Regions from separate parts of the Homo sapiens genome. Here region 2 is linked to region 1. Evidence: fine-mapped expression QTL. Tissue or cell type: lung. Region 1 holds a variant in brackets; the other region holds the start of a gene. All regions are shown on one strand. Distances are from middle to middle.

Region 1 (8,106 bases):
ACAGGATTGGGAGGAGGCCACAGAATGCTACATGGTGAGACGCCTCCATCATCACAGGCTTTCCTCTCCCAGATAATCTGCATTAGCACACCCAAAGGCTGAAATACCTCCCATCTTTAAAAATGAAAAACTTCTCCATGTCCCCTATCTGGTTCCTGCTATCACTCTACTTTACTTCTCTTTACACCAAAAGCCTTAGGAGAGCTGTCTCTATTCACTGTCCCCACTTGCTCAACTTTCATTTCTCTTCCACATGCTCCAAATTAGTCTTGTCCAATAGAACCCCTCTTGTGATCTCCATGACCTCTCATTTTGCTAAATACAATGATTCTTAGCCCTCATCTTGTTCAGTATTTCATTACTCTTTTTTTTTTTTTTTTTGAGACAGGGTCTCACTATGTCGCCCAGGCTGGAGTGCAGTGGTGCTATAATGGCTTACTGCAGTCTCAACCTCCCTGGCTCAGGTGATCCTCCCAACTCAGCCTCCTGAGTAGCTGGGACTACAGGTGTATGCCACCACATCTGAATAAGTTTTTCTATTTTTAGTAGGGATGGGATCTCGCCGTGCTGCCCAGGCTGGTCTCTAACTCCTGGGCTCAAGTGATCTGCCTGCCTCAGCCTCCCAAAGTGCTGGGATTACAGGCGTGAGCCACTGCACCCGGCCGTAAATATCCTTTTAAGAAAGGAGTAAACAGGCCAGGTACAGCGGCTCACGCCTGTAATCCCAGCACTTTGGGAGGCTGAGGTGGTAGATCACAAGTTCAGGAGATCGAGACCATCCTGGCCAACATGGTGAAACCCGACCTCTACTAAAAATACAAAAATTAGGAGGGCGTGGTGGCTCATGCCTGTAATCCCAGCTACTCGGGGGGCTGAGGGAGGAGAATCACTTGAACCCGAGAGTTGGAGGTTGCAGTGAGTGCAAGAGGGAGACTCCATCTCAAAAAAAAAAAAAAAAAAAAAGGAAAGAAGAGTATATTTACCTTGCTTCCACCATATTTTCCTGGTTCTCCTTAGTGGAGATTCCACCTCAATCCTCTGTACTAGCTTCTCATTCCTGACCTCTAAAAATCAGAGCACTCTTGAACCTCCACTTTTGGATCTCTTTTCTTCTGTCTATACTTCTTCATTTGAGTAATGATCTCATTTTGTCTCAAAATTTTCATTATCTATCTGCTGGTGATCTTTTATGTCTCCCTCCAGATCATTCCTCTGAATTCTGGATTTATACATCCAATTGCCTACTTAGTATCTCCACTGGCTGTCTACCAAGCATATCACACTTTCTTTCTCTAAATATGTTCCTCCTTTAAGGAGGGGAAGGATGCATTAACATCTACCCAGTTGTTCAAGCCAAAAACCTAGGCCTCATCCTTACCTCTTCTCTTTTTCTATCCAGAATCTGATTTTTTCTCACCACCCCCATACCTCTACCCTCTTGGTCCAAGTCACTATTCTTTCTCCCCTGAATTACAACAGCTTACTGATCTCTTTGTCTCACCCTTGCTCTCCACAGTAAGTCCTTTGCAGAAAAGCCAAAGTAATCTTTTCTAAAGGGTAAGATTCTGCCACTCCCCTGCTCAAAACTCTCCCAAACCTCCCCACTAGAGCAGCTCGTGAGGATCTTTATGGTGCCACAGCCCACCGATTTTGGCCTGGCGGCTTGCCTTTTTTTTTTTTTTTTTTGAGACAGATTCTTGCTCTGTCCCCCAGGCTGGAGAGCAATGGTGCTAACTTGGTTCACTGCAACCTCCACCTCCCAGGCTCAAGTGATTCTCCTGCCTCAGCCTCCCGAGTAGCTGGGATTACAGGTGCCCACTACCATGCCCAGCTAATCTGTATGTTTAGTAGAGACAGGGTTTCACCACATTGGCCAGGTTGGTCTTGAATTCCTGACCTCAGGTGATCCACCTGCCTCAGCCTCCCAAAGTGCTGGGATTACAGGTGTGAGTCACTGTGCCCAGCCTGGCTTGCCTTTCTCTAGGCACTTCTTGCTGTTTATCAAACACAGTCCTATCCAAGAAGAGTCTTTGCTCTTCCTGTCTCCACTTCTGGAAAGCAATTCCTCACATGTTCACACTCATTATCCCCCACTTCATTCAGGTCTCTTCTCAAATGTCACCTCCTCACAAGGCCTTTGCTGACCACTATCTAAAACAGTTCCCCTGCCCAGTCACTATGCCCTTTCTCTGCCATACATACCACCTGCCAGCATCTGATGTTTTGGTTCATATTTATTTGCTTAGTCTGCTCCCCACTTAGATACTGAAACCAAGAAGGCAGGGACATGACCTGATTCACTGCTGTCTCCTCCATGCCTAGAACGCTGTCTGCCACATAGTAGACACCTAATGACATCCTCCATCGTACGTCTTCATGCATTCGTCTACTAGCTGTTAATAATCCATCTTTTGCCACTCCTCCAGAAGTTATCAGACCAGAACATTAAAACATTAAGTTATTACAAAAGATTTCAGACACGACGAACAGCGTAAAAGAAAACAAACATCCACGTTCTTACCACCAAGCTTAAGGAATAAAACCTTTCCAAGTATTGTTGGGCCTCACAAATACCTACTCCACTGAGAGAACTTAACACCAGACTTGAAGAGAACCTGAAGGAGAAAAGTGTTTGATTCACCCTTTTTTAACCTGGTTAAAAAAAAAAAAAGGAAACAAAACTATATGACAAAGTACCCCCCGCCCAAAAAAAAAGCCCTATGTTGCAGTGAGATTGGGGCTTTTGGATGGAGGAAACAAAAGGAAGAAACAAACAACAGGGCAGGAAGCAGCAGGGGCCAGCAGAGCGTCTGAGGAGTAACACCCAGGAAAGGAGGCTACGGGCAAGAGTGAGGCAATGTGAAGAACTGGCCTCCATTCGCTGTCTTCCCTATTGAATGCTTGAACTATAGAAGGATCATCAAGTAGGCACTGAATGATTACAAACGAAGCCTGGCTTCAAGACCAGGATCGAATTGGTTAATACACATCCAGTTACATCATAGAAAGTTTAGACGACACTGTAATTTAATCACACCGCTTGGCATGGCAGCATATATCAAAACTGGCAAATAAGTATTGCAAATGACACAGGAAACAAGCTTGTGGCTTGAAAATAAGTGGGGGGTAGATGTAAGGCTTGTCTGCTCCCCACTTAGATACTGAATCCACGAAGGCAGGGACATGACCTGATTCACTGCCGTCTCCTCTGTGCCTAGAATGCTGTCTGCCACATAGTAGGACTTAAATAAGTCCTTTAAAAATCTTTTCAATATTTTGAAATATTGAAATATTGAAAAGATTTTTAAAGGATTAAAATTACACTGGAAACACCATGACCCATTAAAAAGAGATCTTTTAGAGCTTTGTCACTAGAGAACCGTATCAGTAATCCAACAGAAAAATTTGATATGCAATGAAATCACTAATGTATCTAACAGTACCTAATACTATTCTACCACAAAAGCAACTGGCTCCATGGAGAATAGCTGATTCTAGCCTTGGGGGAAGCGGGGGGCTTGGGGGCGTGGGAATCTAGATGGGGCTAGATCTTGTTTCTGTCAGAAAGTCTACAAAGGAGCCAGTTTAAAGGCTCAAATGACAATCTGACAATTCAGTTAAGATTCATCAGTCTTAATGGTACTTAAAAGGGGAGAAATCTTAAAAGCTGTAAGGGGGCAAGTAGAGATTAAAATCCAGCCAGGCCTGGGGTGAGCTTAACTTTGAGCTTTTGTAATTCATCTACCTAGAGGGGCACCTTTCTGAGTTTTTTGTTTGTTTTTTGTTGTTGTTTTTTTGAGATGGAGTCTTGCTCTCTTGCCCAGGTTGGAGTGCAGTGGCATGATCTCAGCTCACTGGAACTTCTACCTCCCGGGTTCAAGCGATTCTCCTGCTTCAGCCTCCCGAGTAGCTGGGATTACAGA[C/T]GTGCAGCACTACGCCTGGCTAATCTTGTATTTTTAGTAGAGATGGGGTTTCACCACATTCGCCAGGCTGGTCTCGAACTCCCGATGTCAAGTGATCCACCCTCCTTGGCCTTCTAAAGTGCTGTGATTACAGGCGTGAGCCACTGCAGCCGGCCGGGCACCTTTCTGTTAATTCACACAAAGGTACTATTTGTGCTAGAGATGGTCCTCGGTATGGAATTATGACATACATGAGTTTCCAATAATTTGTAAGTGTTATAAATCAATCCAAATTATTACATGAGTATTTATTAGACACAGTTCTATCAGTGCAAATCAGTCAGTAAAGACACAGTTTGAGTAGGGTCTGCAGAATTCCATTCCCTCTAGAGCAGGTAAGAGATTGTGGTCAAAAATTGGGTAAGCACAAGAGGTACAGGCTTGGACAATCCCACCACTATGAAAGAGCTTAGCCCAATAAATAAGCCTCAAAGTTATTGACCCAGTCCTAAATCTCCACCCCCAAAACTCTATAGCAGGTTCGAAATGGTAATTTTGTCCACCTTGGTTGGGTAAATTTGTAACCCCTGAATGAATAAATGGTAGTGATATATTTGTATAAGTTGTATTTAAGCAAGTGTAATCATCATTTTTGTAACCATTACACTCATGAGTATATGTTCTGGTTTTTCAAATGTTTAAAATTCTTAAGAGACTATTTGACTTATTAAAGTTATGTAGTTGATTTACTGGAAGAAGTTTGAAGTGCCTGGGGATATCAGATATATTAAATTTGTAAGCATGTTTTGAAATGTTTAAGGAATTCTAGTCAAGTTTATAATTTTTTTTTTTTTTAAAGACAGGGTAGTGCTCTGCCACCCAGGCTGCAGTGCAGTGGCACAATCATAGATAACTGCAGCCCTGAACTGCTGGGTTCAAGTGATCCTCCCACCTCAGCCTCCCAAAGCTCTAGGATTATAGGCATGAGCCACTGCACCCAGCCTGTAAATGGTATTTAATAGAGGAATTTCATCTGTCAAATGTAAAAGCGCTTGAGCATCAGTCAAAAAACAAGCAAATAGGCATTTTTAATATTAACACCCAACTAAATTTTTCAGTGAATTTTTAAGTATATTTAAGGTTTAAAGAAAAGTGGGCTTTTAAAAATCATAATTTTAATAAGCTAAGCTCTGACCAAAGCATAAATAACTCAGGAACTGTCTGGCATAGCAGAATCGAGGGCTTTGCTCCAAATTCTCACCCGCTTGACCTTAGGCAAGTTACTCGAATTTTTGTGCCTCAGGGTCTCCATTTGTAAAATGAAATAATACTATTAATACCTACATCAAGACCCTTGTGAGGACTGAGTTAATATATACAAAGCACCAAGAACTGTTATTGAGTAAATTGCAGGTGCTTCATCAATGTTAGCTAGATTATCACCATCGTTAGTATCACTGATACCACCTGCCAAGGCTATGCATACTTTGAGGGCAAGGACAACGTCTTGTCTTTACATGCCTAACATTTAGCATGCTGCCTGGTACCCAATAGGCATGCAATTAATATTGCCTGAATTTAACTGAAGAGTCTAAAATTCTAGCTATCAGGGTATGACTTTCAAGCTGTAATGCGTAAAGAGAACCAACATGACAAATGGCAGGGGCAAAGATAAACAGGCCAATGAAAAACAAGATTTTATACAGTCAGAAAATACTGTTTCTTACAATTTGGAATGGTTCTTACTTACTCTAGGAGTTTCTCAGGTCCTAATTGTCTTAAGGGAATTTCTACTGGGATTAGACGATGAGAGCTCATCTAAATCTTGACCCTAGATCTAGAATTACACAGATTTAATACAGAATTTGAGCTGTCCCTCCAATAAATTTAATCTAACACAGTTTACTCTAGAATTAATTACTTAAACTTTTTCCAGTCACCATAACTTGTTTCTGAACTAAAGTATAATACAACCTTAACTCATTCAATCTAGGCACCCTTTTTATTTTCCATTGCTCTTGCAATTTTCCAGCAGTTTACTCTCATTTGAGTTCATTACCAGTACTCCAGATGGAAACTTTCCCTAATAGGTTGTTCCATTCACAGCGATTTAGAAAGCACTGTTTGCGTCACAGTTTTCGGCTTGGATAAAGGGAGCTGTTACTTCAAACCCCATTTCTTCTTGGTGTCCTGCAGTCAGTCACACCTGAGCGCACCCAGCACTCAGCCTGCCTTCTACTAACGACCTTTTAAAGCAAAATGCTTTAACCCACCAGGTAGCAGATTTCCCTTCCTTCCAGTGCACAGTAAGTCCATGCAGGCTATAATTCCTTCAACAGACATCAAATGACTGCAGTAACAGTAAAAAATAATTCACAATTACTGAGGGTGCTCTGCGTGCCAATGTGTTTGTATATCTTAATTATTCCAAGAACTCGTGAAGAAGAGACTATTTATCCCATTTTATAAATCACAAAACAGACTTAAAAAGGAACTAACATTCCCTGGGTTTTTATCCTTACTTTGAAGGTGTCTGGATTTGACAAAAACAGTGTCCTTTTGTAGAATAGGGCCCTATGAATTATTATCCTCATTTTATAAATATTAAATATCAAAGATTATACAGCTAAGAGGCACACAGAACCAGAATTCAAGTCTGTCTGATTCCAAGATCCACACTGTAGCTTATTTTGCTATGTTACCTATTCAATTTTATGAAGGTCTTTTGCAGCACACTCTTCTACTCTCAGCTAAGGAATGAAAAAACTGCCTAAAAAGGCTTACTTATTTCATATGGTACTTCTTTCTATGTTTGAAGCAAGATAGGAAAAGGAAAGAGAAGGAAGGAAAGGCTATGGTAAACTTTCTCTCCAAAGATTTGATAGCACTGGAGAATGTTCAGTATCTTTGGATCTGATAGGGTCTAAGAAAGGGTTCAGTACTTAACCATATTTCACTATAACTCTAGCCAGTGTGGTACAGACTGTTGTTGTAGAGAAGAGTTTATTCACCAAACTATATACTGAAAATGAAAACTCATTTGTCAAGGATTAGATCACTCATATAGGCAATAAGAATTTGTCTTTAAAAAAAAAAAAAAAAAAAAAAGTCTTGCTCTGTTTCCCAGGCTGGAGTGCAGTGGTGCAATCTCGGCTCACTGCAACCTTCGCCTCCCAGGTTCAAGCAATTCTCCTGCCTCAGCCTCCCAAGTAGCTGGGATTACAGGCACCCACCACCACGCCTGGATAATTTTTTTGTATTTTTAGTAGAATCAGGATTTCACCATGTAGGCCAGGCTGGTCTTGAACTCCTGACCTCAGGTGGTCTGCCGGCCTCGGCCTCCCAAAGTGCTGGGATTACAGGCGCGAGCCACCATGCCCAGCCTGGCAATAAGAAATTCTTAAACATTATCAATGATACCTAGGAAATTACATAAAATCTCTCCTACATTGGTGGTGGGGGTGTTAACTAATATAATTTCATTGGAGGGCAATTTGGCCAAATCTACAAAAATTGCAAATGCAGGTATCCCTTGATTCAGCAATTCTACTTCTAGGAATTTATCCTACAGGGAAACTTACATAAGCATAAAATGATGTGTAAACAATGAAATTCTTTGTTGTACTGTTAATATCCTGTATTTCTGGAAGGATATACAAGAATAACAATGGCTGCCTCTGAAGAGTGTGCTGATCTGATAGCAAGGGGAAGAATTTTCACTATATACTTCTCTGTGCTTTAAAAATTGTATACATTAGGCTGGGCATGGTGGCTCACACTTGTAATCTCAGCACTTTGGGAGGCCGAGGTGGGCAGATCACGAGGTCAGGAGTTCAAGACCAGCTTGGCCAACATGGTGAAACCCCGTCTCTACTAAAAATACAAAAATTAGCTGGGCATGGTGGCGCGTGCCTGTAGTCCCAGCTATTTGGGAGGTTGAGGCAGAAGAATCGCTTGAACGAACCTGGGAGGCAGAGGTTGCAGTGAGCCAAGATCACGCCACTACACTGCAGCCTGGGCAACAAGAGTGAAACTCCATCTCAAAAAAAAAAAATTATACATACACACACACACACACACACACACACACACACACACACAGTGCAAGTATTACTTATGCAAAAGAAAACTAAATAACAGTTACCAGTTGCTTTTTGCATTTTCTTTTCTCACTTCTCTCTGACAATCATAATTCCTAAGCTTT
Region 2 (8,106 bases), 180 kb after region 1:
AAAACCACAGGGAAGAGACGTCCACGTCAGAGACCACCCTCATACCTGGTGAGATCTGTGCCAACTCCTCAGAAACTGGCACGCCAAATCAAAATGGGTCTGGTTCAATCCTCCCTAATGGCAACAGAAACCCCTCTAACTAATCCCACTTCTCCTAATTCCCTTTCTTTTTCTCCTTACGAACCTAAAAATCTCACCATTTCTATTAGCCTGAAAATAACATCCCCTTATTCTTCTATTCCTCCTTCAGCACTGGATCTTGCTTACAATAGGTTTTATTTAATAATTCTCTTCCTTATACTTTCTGTCTCACCAGTTTCCCCTCACATTGATTTACCTGCTACACAAAATTATTCTTGCTGGGCTTATGTGCCTTTTCCTCCACTTATTCAACCTCTCACCTGGATGGATGCTCCTGCGGAAATCTATACTAATGATAGTGTGTGGATGCCTGGAGCTACAGATGACCGTTGCCCCACTCAACCAGGAAAAGAAGGCACTGCATTTAATGTTCCTACGGTTATAAATACCCTCCTCTGTGCCTCGGACATGCACCTTGTTGTATCCATCTAGAAACTCAAGTCTGGGCTGCGTACCTTCTGGAGAGATCAGCCACAGGGGAACGGGGACATTTGGTCTCCAGCCTCTCCCTTTCTCCTTTAAGACAAATGAAAGGGGGAGTAATAGGAGATACCCCCTACTTTCAATATAAACCTGTAGGAAAACCATGTCCTAAAATTTTTGAGGGCCCATCTAAATCTTTAATTTGGGAAGATTGTGTTAATTCACATGCAGTACTATTAAAAAATGACTCATATGGTTTAGTAAGAGACTGGGCACCAAAGGGCTATTTGAAAAGCAGTTGCTCTTCTGCTGGAAGGGAATGCCTGGAGGCTACTTGTTTTATTTCTTATTGGGAGGACGAGGATCATCATCCTACTTTGCATAGGAGGTTCAGCTCATTCTGTCCCTTAAAATGGGAAGATAAGAGCATTACCCCCTGCCACCCGAGGCCTCTTATGATATCCCCCATTCTGAGCCCAGAACACCCAGAACTTTGGAAATTGGCTATTGCCATGTCCAGACTGCGAGTATGGGAAGGGGAAACTTTTCTTTCTGTTGTCCCCACTACCACCCCTCACATCCGTGATTCTGAAACCCATGATAAATCCCCTTTGGACCATTTTCCTCTTTTTGATGCCAGTCCTCCTTTATGGGACTCTGATTGGCATTATGATAATTCTTCTGGACCCAGGTATGTCCCCCTACCTCTTCAGAATCCCCGGGCACCTCGGATTGCTTCTTTACGGCATCAAACATTGGGCGTTGCCACCGCCACTCCTCCCCCTCGGTATCAACGTAGATTCAAACATTCTGCTTTGTTTACCTCCAGCCTGACTATTATACAGAGTTGTGTTAAGCCTCCTTACATGCTGTTAGTGGGAAATATCAAAATTTGGATGAACAATCAAACCGTCCAATGCATTAATTGTCATTTATCCACTTGTGTTAACTCCCGTTTTGACTCAGGAAAAGTGTAATGTTGGTTCGAGCTTGAGAAGGAATCTGGATACCAGTAACTTTACCCAGAACTTGGGAATCTTCCCCCTCAGTACATTTAATTAATGAAGTGTTACAACGAATTCTCAAAAGATCAAGAGATTTGTTTTCACTTTAATCACTGTGATCATGGGCCTAATTACAGTCACTGCACTGGCCACCACTGCCGGAGTGGCATTACACCAATCTATTCAAATGGCTAATTTTGTTAATGATTGGTAAGGCAATTCCACCCAAATGTGGAATCCTCAACAAGGCATTGATCAAAAATTAGCTAATGATTTAAGACAGTCTGTTATTTGGCTTGGGGACCAGCTAATGAGTCTCGAACATCACATGCAAATGCAGTTCGATTGCAACACTTCTGATTTCTATAGCACACCATATTCCTACAACGAGACTGATCATGGGAAATGGTCAAAGGACACCTTCTGGGTAGGGAAGATAATTTATCCTTGGACATAACTAAATTAAAGAAACAAATTTTTGAAGCCTCTCAAGCTCATTTATCCATTGTGCCTGGAGCTGAGGCGTTAGATCAGGTGGCAGAAAGTCTTTCTGGACTAAACTCCACAACTTGGATTAAGTCTACTGGGGGCTCCACTGTAGGAAATTTTGGAATCATGTTTCTCTGTTTAATCGGCTTGTTTTTAGTGTGCCAGACCAGTCAAAGAATCCTGCATCAAAACCGAGAGAACGAGCAAGCCTTCATCGCCACGGCACATTTATATAAAAAGAAAGGGAGAGATGTTGCGGGAAGTCAGGGACCCTGAATGGAGGGACTGGCTGGAGCCATGGCAGAGGAACATAAATTGTGAAGATTTCATTTTAATATGGACATTTATCAGTTCCCAAATAATACTTTTATAATTTCTTATGCCTGTCTTTACTTTAATCTCTTAATCCTGTTATCTTTGTAAGCTGAGGATGTTTGTCACTTCAGGACCACTGTGATAATTGTGTTAACTGTACAAATTGATTGTAAGACATGTGTTTGAACAATATGAAATTAGTGCACCTTGAAAAAGAACAGAATAAGAGCAATTTTTAGGGAACAAGGGAAAACAACCATAAGGTCTGACTGCCTGCAGGGTCGGGCAGAAAGAGCCATATTTTCCTTCTTGAGAGAGGCTATAAATGGACATGCAAGTAGGGAAGATATCACTAAATTCTTTTCCTAGCAAGGAGTATTATTATTAATACCCTGGGAAAGGAATGCATTCCTGGGGGGAGGTCTATAAACAGCCGCTCTGGGAATGTCTATCTTGTGCAGTTGAGATAAGGACTGAGATACGCCCTGGTCTCCTGCAGTACCCTCAGGCTTACTAGGGTGGGGAAAAACTCCGCCCTGGTAAATTTGTGGTCAGACCGGTTCTCTGCTGTCGAACCCTGTTTGCTGTTGTTTAAGGTGTTTATCAAGACAGTATGTGCACCGCTGAACATAGACCCTCATCTGTAGTTCTGCTTTTGCCCTTTGCCTTGTGATCTTTGTTGGACCCTTATCAGTGGTTCTGCTTTTGCCCTTTGCCTTGTGATCTTTGTTGGACCCTTATCGGTAGTTCTGCTTTTGCCCTTTGTCCTTTCCCTCAGAAGCATGTGATCTTTGTTAGACACTTATTAGTAGTTCTGCTTTTCGCCCTTTGAAGCATGTGATCTTTGTACCTACTCCCTGTTCTTACACCCCCTCCCCTTTTTGAAACCCTTAATAAAAACTTGCTGGTTTGAGGCTCAGGTGGGTATCACAGTCCTACCGATATGTGATGCCACCCCCGGCGGCCCAGCTGTAAAATTCCTCTCTTTATACTGTCTCTCTTTATTTCTCAGCCGGCTGACACTTATAGAAAGAACCTACGTTGAAATATTGGGGGTGGGTTCCCCCAGTACGCTAGTCCTGCTGATGAGCAAAGAAGGTGTTGATGGCATTTTGATCAACAAGAAATGTTATGAAACGGCCTCCCACCTCTGGCATTCCTAGTACTGACCTATCTCTCCCTTCCCTTCCACCGCTCCCCACAGCTTAGCACCCCTTTCGTTCCCATACACATGTACATTTTTATTTTGGGGACCATTAACCCACAGCCCTTATCGCTGCCAAAACCACATGGGCTGGAGGGCCAGGGCTGCATGGACAGTCACACCACTGCACACCAGCCTGGTGATGGAGCAAGACTCTGAAAAAAAAAAAAAGAAGCATAAAAGACCTTTAACAGTCCCTGCTACTTGTGACCCTCCTGAATCTGTCATCTGTCCAGTGATTTTGATTTTGCAACATGGAAAGTTCCAAGCCTTGACTCCTGAGCCCAGATACCATTCGCACTCTGGAGTCATTCAAGCATGGGGAGCTCCTCAGAGGGTGATCAACTGACCTCCCTTACCTAGCTCCTCCTCCGGAGGTTTGCCCTGGAGTTGAGCCAGCCCTTGAGGAGGCCTTCACTCCCACCGCCTCTCTCCCTTCTGGATATGAGCTCAGGCCTGGCTGGGCTCCAGGAGAATCTTTCCACAAGGCAAGAGATAACACAAAGTCAAGGTGAAGATCAGGGTAGCCCTTTAAAAGGCCTCCTTGTGCCCTAGAGTTGCCACAGCTCTTCTACTCCACTGCTGTCTATCTTGCCTGCCGGCACCCAGCCACCATGTGGGAGCTCGTGGCTCTCTTGCTGCTTACCCTAGCTTATTTGTTTTGGCCCAAGAGAAGGTGCCCTGGTGCCAAGTACCCCAAGAGCCTCCTGTCCCTGCCCCTGGTGGGCAGCCTGCCATTCCTCCCCAGACACGGCCATATGCATAACAACTTCTTCAAGCTGCAGAAAAAATATGGCCCCATCTATTCGGTTCGTATGGGCACCAAGACTACAGTGATTGTCGGCCACCACCAGCTGGCCAAGGAGGTGCTTATTAAGAAGGGCAAGGACTTCTCTGGGCGGCCTCAAATGGTAAGTGGTGCCCATCTCCTCCCTGCCCCCTTCACCACCCCCTGGGATTGTTCAGGTCTTCAGACCATGCCTAGAATGGGGCTTCCAGCTCCAACAACCTGTAATTCTTCCCAAAGTAGACTAGTGGGATGATGTGAAGGGAGTGAACCTTCAGACCCCCACCCAGCCTCTAAATTAGGCAGGAAGAATTAAAGGAATGTCTCCTCTACCAGGCTGCCCAGGAGGTGGGATGGGAGGACCACAGTGGTCTGAGGGGTCAAGGAATCCTCACTCCACTCCTCTCTCTGAGCCTAGACTTCTCTAATGGACTGAGAAGGTGCATGTACAGCACTTAGCCTAGCACCCAGCACAGTAAGTGCCCCTTATACAGCCAGGATTCATGTTACTTTTCATGGAAAATGGGGGCAGTGACTACTGTCCTCCATGAAAGCTGCTGGGGAGAATTAGCCTAGCTATTGCAGGCTGGGATTGCTGCTTTCCTGGTGCTATTTCCAGCTACTCAGGCTCACAGGGGCAGTTTTCTACAATGACATTTCAGGGTTGCTGATGAGCCTCCCACTCAGCAGGGCCCCCAGCCTCTCAGCATTTTTTTTTTTTTTTTTTTTTTTTGAGACAGAGTCTCTCTCTGTCGCCCAGCCTGGAGTGCAGTGGCCAATCTCAGCTCACTGCAACCTCTGCCTCCCGGGTTCAAGTGATTCTCCTGCCTCAGCCTCCTGAGTACCTGGGACTACAGGAGCATGCCACCATGCCCGCTAATTTTTTGTATTTTTAGTAGAGATGGTGTTTCACCATGTTAGCCAGGATGGTCTCGATCTCCTGACCTCGTGATCCTCCCACCTTAGCCTCCCAAAGTGCTAGGATTATAGGCGTAAGCCACTGTGCCCTGCCAGCCTCTCAGCTTTGATCAAGCCAAGGGTTGGTTTATTTTTTCTTGGACCAATCAGCCAGGTCTGCTGACCAACTACCTAGCTCCCACCTCTGCTGGCTTCCTCCCGGGGGCAGAGAAGATGGAGAAGGCTAGTCATGTGGATCTTCAGGGTCAGGAAATGGAAAAGGGAGGCTTTGGACCCTTTTGCTTTGGGGGGCACCTCTAGGAGGAGGCGGCTCGGCCCAAGTCCAGACTGGGTAGACAAAACATCTGCACTCTCCAAATGTGGGCTTGTGGCTGGGTATGCAGGCTTGCAATGGAAGGGTAAACCTGAGTGAGGTGAGCTGTGCCTTTAGCTCAGCTAAGGGCTCAGGGAAAAGCAGAGATCTGTGCAGTCCTCAGCCTCTACAAGCTCACCTGCTCCCTACCCTCTGGACAGGCATAGTTTAGAGAGTTTATCCCATCCAGAGTTGCCTTCCTGTGGTCAGAAACTGATGAGCAAAAAGAAGCCCAGAGGGCACCCTGTCAGCGAAAAGAACCCCAATGCTGCTGCATTCTAATTAAGGGTTCTTTCTTTCTCCTTGATCTACTGTATTTCTGAAGGAATTGGGAGTAGGAGGCCTTAGGGTCTGTCCTACCAAGTCCTTGCAGTCATGGTGGAGTGCAGTGGGGCTGTGCCCACATGGGAGTCAGCATGCCAGGTACCTGCCTTCTCCTCCAGGAAGGAAAGCAGGGACCAGAGGTGTAAGGGCAAGAGTGGGGTGGATGGTGTGAGATTCCTACAGCCTTGCCTGCTCTCTAAAGGCAACTCTAGACATCGCGTCCAACAACCGTAAGGGTATCGCCTTCGCTGACTCTGGCGCACACTGGCAGCTGCATCGAAGGCTGGCGATGGCCACCTTTGCCCTGTTCAAGGATGGCGATCAGAAGCTGGAGAAGATCAGTGAGTGCCAGGCTGGCCCCTGGGGCTGGGGCTGGATCCCACAGGAGCTGCTGGAGGGAGAGGAGGGTTGGGCAGGGGTAAGGGTTAGGACTAGAGCGCAATGCAGCCTTTTCTTGGCTACTGCTGCCATCTAGTGGCCATCTGCTATCTGTCCCCCGCTCCTGTTAAGAGGCAACTGGTACAGAGAGGGGGTAAGGGTGCTGATTCATTTCCCACCCTCATGCCCCCTCTCCCTTCAGTTTGTCAGGAAATCAGTACATTGTGTGATATGCTGGCCACCCACAACGGACAGTCCATAGACATCTCCTTTCCTGTCTTCGTGGCGGTAACCAATGTCATCTCCTTGATCTGCTTCAATACCTCCTACAAGAATGGGGACCCTGAGTTGAATGTCATACAGAATTACAATGAAGGCATCATAGACAACCTGAGCAAAGACAGCCTGGTGGACCTAGTCCCCTGGTTGAAGGTGAGATGCTGCCAGCCCTGCCTTCAGGTTCTAGTAGACCCTGACATTGTCCCCAATCTTCCTTCCTTTTTACTTCCCTGCTCCAGCCGCAATGACCCATCTTTTTCCTGATTACCTCCGCCACCTCTACCTCCTCTGCCACTTAAAACCTTTGCCATTTCTCTGCAGAGATAGATTTAGCCTTTTAATTATGCACCTTAGTACTCCAGATAATGACCTTCATTTCTTTTCCAATTACCATGTGCCAGTACTAAGCATTCTATACGCATTCATCGCTGAATTCCCCTTGGAAGTAGGTTTTATTATCCCCATTGTGCAGGTGAGAAGCAGGCTTAGCGGGGTTAAGGAGCTTGTCTGAGCCTTCAGGCTCATGTCTCTCTCACTCCTAAGGGCTGGACACATAGCAGAGTCAGCGCTTGATGTTTGATTGAATGGGGAAGGAGAGGTGGAGACCACGCCCTCCTCCCTTGTTTAGAATTGTCTTCGTCGTCATGATAAACCCGTTCTGTGTCCCCATCTTGCCTTCCATTCTGGCTGAAGGTCAGGGGTGGAGTAGGAACTTCCAGAGACAGAAAGCTAAGATCCGCCTCCAGGAGAGACTCTGGCAGCTGGAGAAGCAAAATGGAAGAAGGGTGGATTTAACATTTCTTTTTATTTCCCAGATTTTCCCCAACAAAACCCTGGAAAAATTAAAGAGCCATGTTAAAATACGAAATGATCTGCTGAATAAAATACTTGAAAATTACAAGGTAGGTGATAGAGCAGAAGAGAATATGAGTTAGGCTAAAAGTAATCACAAGAGCAGGGTGGAGTCCATTCTACACACTGTAGAAGCTTCAAAACCAAGCAGAGAACCTGGCACATAGTAGGTGTACAATAAAAACTGACTTAAGGGCTGGGCGCGGTGGCTCACGCCTGTAATCCCAACACTTTGGGAGGCCGAGGTGGGCAGATCAATTGAGGTCAGGAGTTCGAGATGAGCCTGGCCAATATGGTGAAACCCCGTCTGTACTAAAAATACAAAAACTAGGCCAGGCAAGATGGCTCACACCTGTAATCCCAACATTTTGGGAGGCCAAGGTGGGCAGATCACCTGAGGTTGGGAGTTCGAGACCAGCCTGACCAACATGGAGAAACTCTGTCTCTACTAAAAATACAAAATTAGCCGGGCACGGTGGCGCATGCCTATAATCCCAGCTATTTGGGAGGCTGAGGCAGGAGACTCACTTGAACCCGAGAAGCAGAGGTTGCAGTGAGCTGAGATCATGCCATTGCACTCCAGCCTGGGCATTGCACCAAGATTCTGTCTCAAAAAAAAAAAAAAAACTGACTCAAGGAG

The links. PIP is the estimated chance that this variant, and not a neighbour inherited with it, causes the effect.
Region 2: it holds the start of CYP17A1, and the variant in region 1 is fine-mapped to the expression of CYP17A1 in lung (TOPMed, PIP above 0.99).

What each region holds. Positions count from the first base shown.
Region 1 is chr10:103,011,544-103,019,649 of GRCh38, reverse strand. All of the region lies in intron 1 of CNNM2 (cyclin and CBS domain divalent metal cation transport mediator 2), which reads right to left. Among named protein-coding and RNA genes, the nearest start is that of CNNM2, 97 kb to the right of the region's middle. The variant C/T (reference allele first, on the strand shown) is at 3,924.
Region 2 is chr10:102,833,446-102,841,551 of GRCh38, reverse strand. CYP17A1 (cytochrome P450 family 17 subfamily A member 1) reads left to right here and starts at 4,139. Exons shown (of 8, transcript NM_000102.4): 1 at 4,139-4,487; 2 at 6,160-6,298; 3 at 6,538-6,767; 4 at 7,430-7,516. The coding sequence starts at 4,191. It overlaps CYP17A1-AS1 (CYP17A1 antisense RNA 1), which reads right to left. Exons shown (of 2, transcript XR_428804.2): 2 at 7,048-7,375. RefSeq lists a promoter at 3,900-4,179.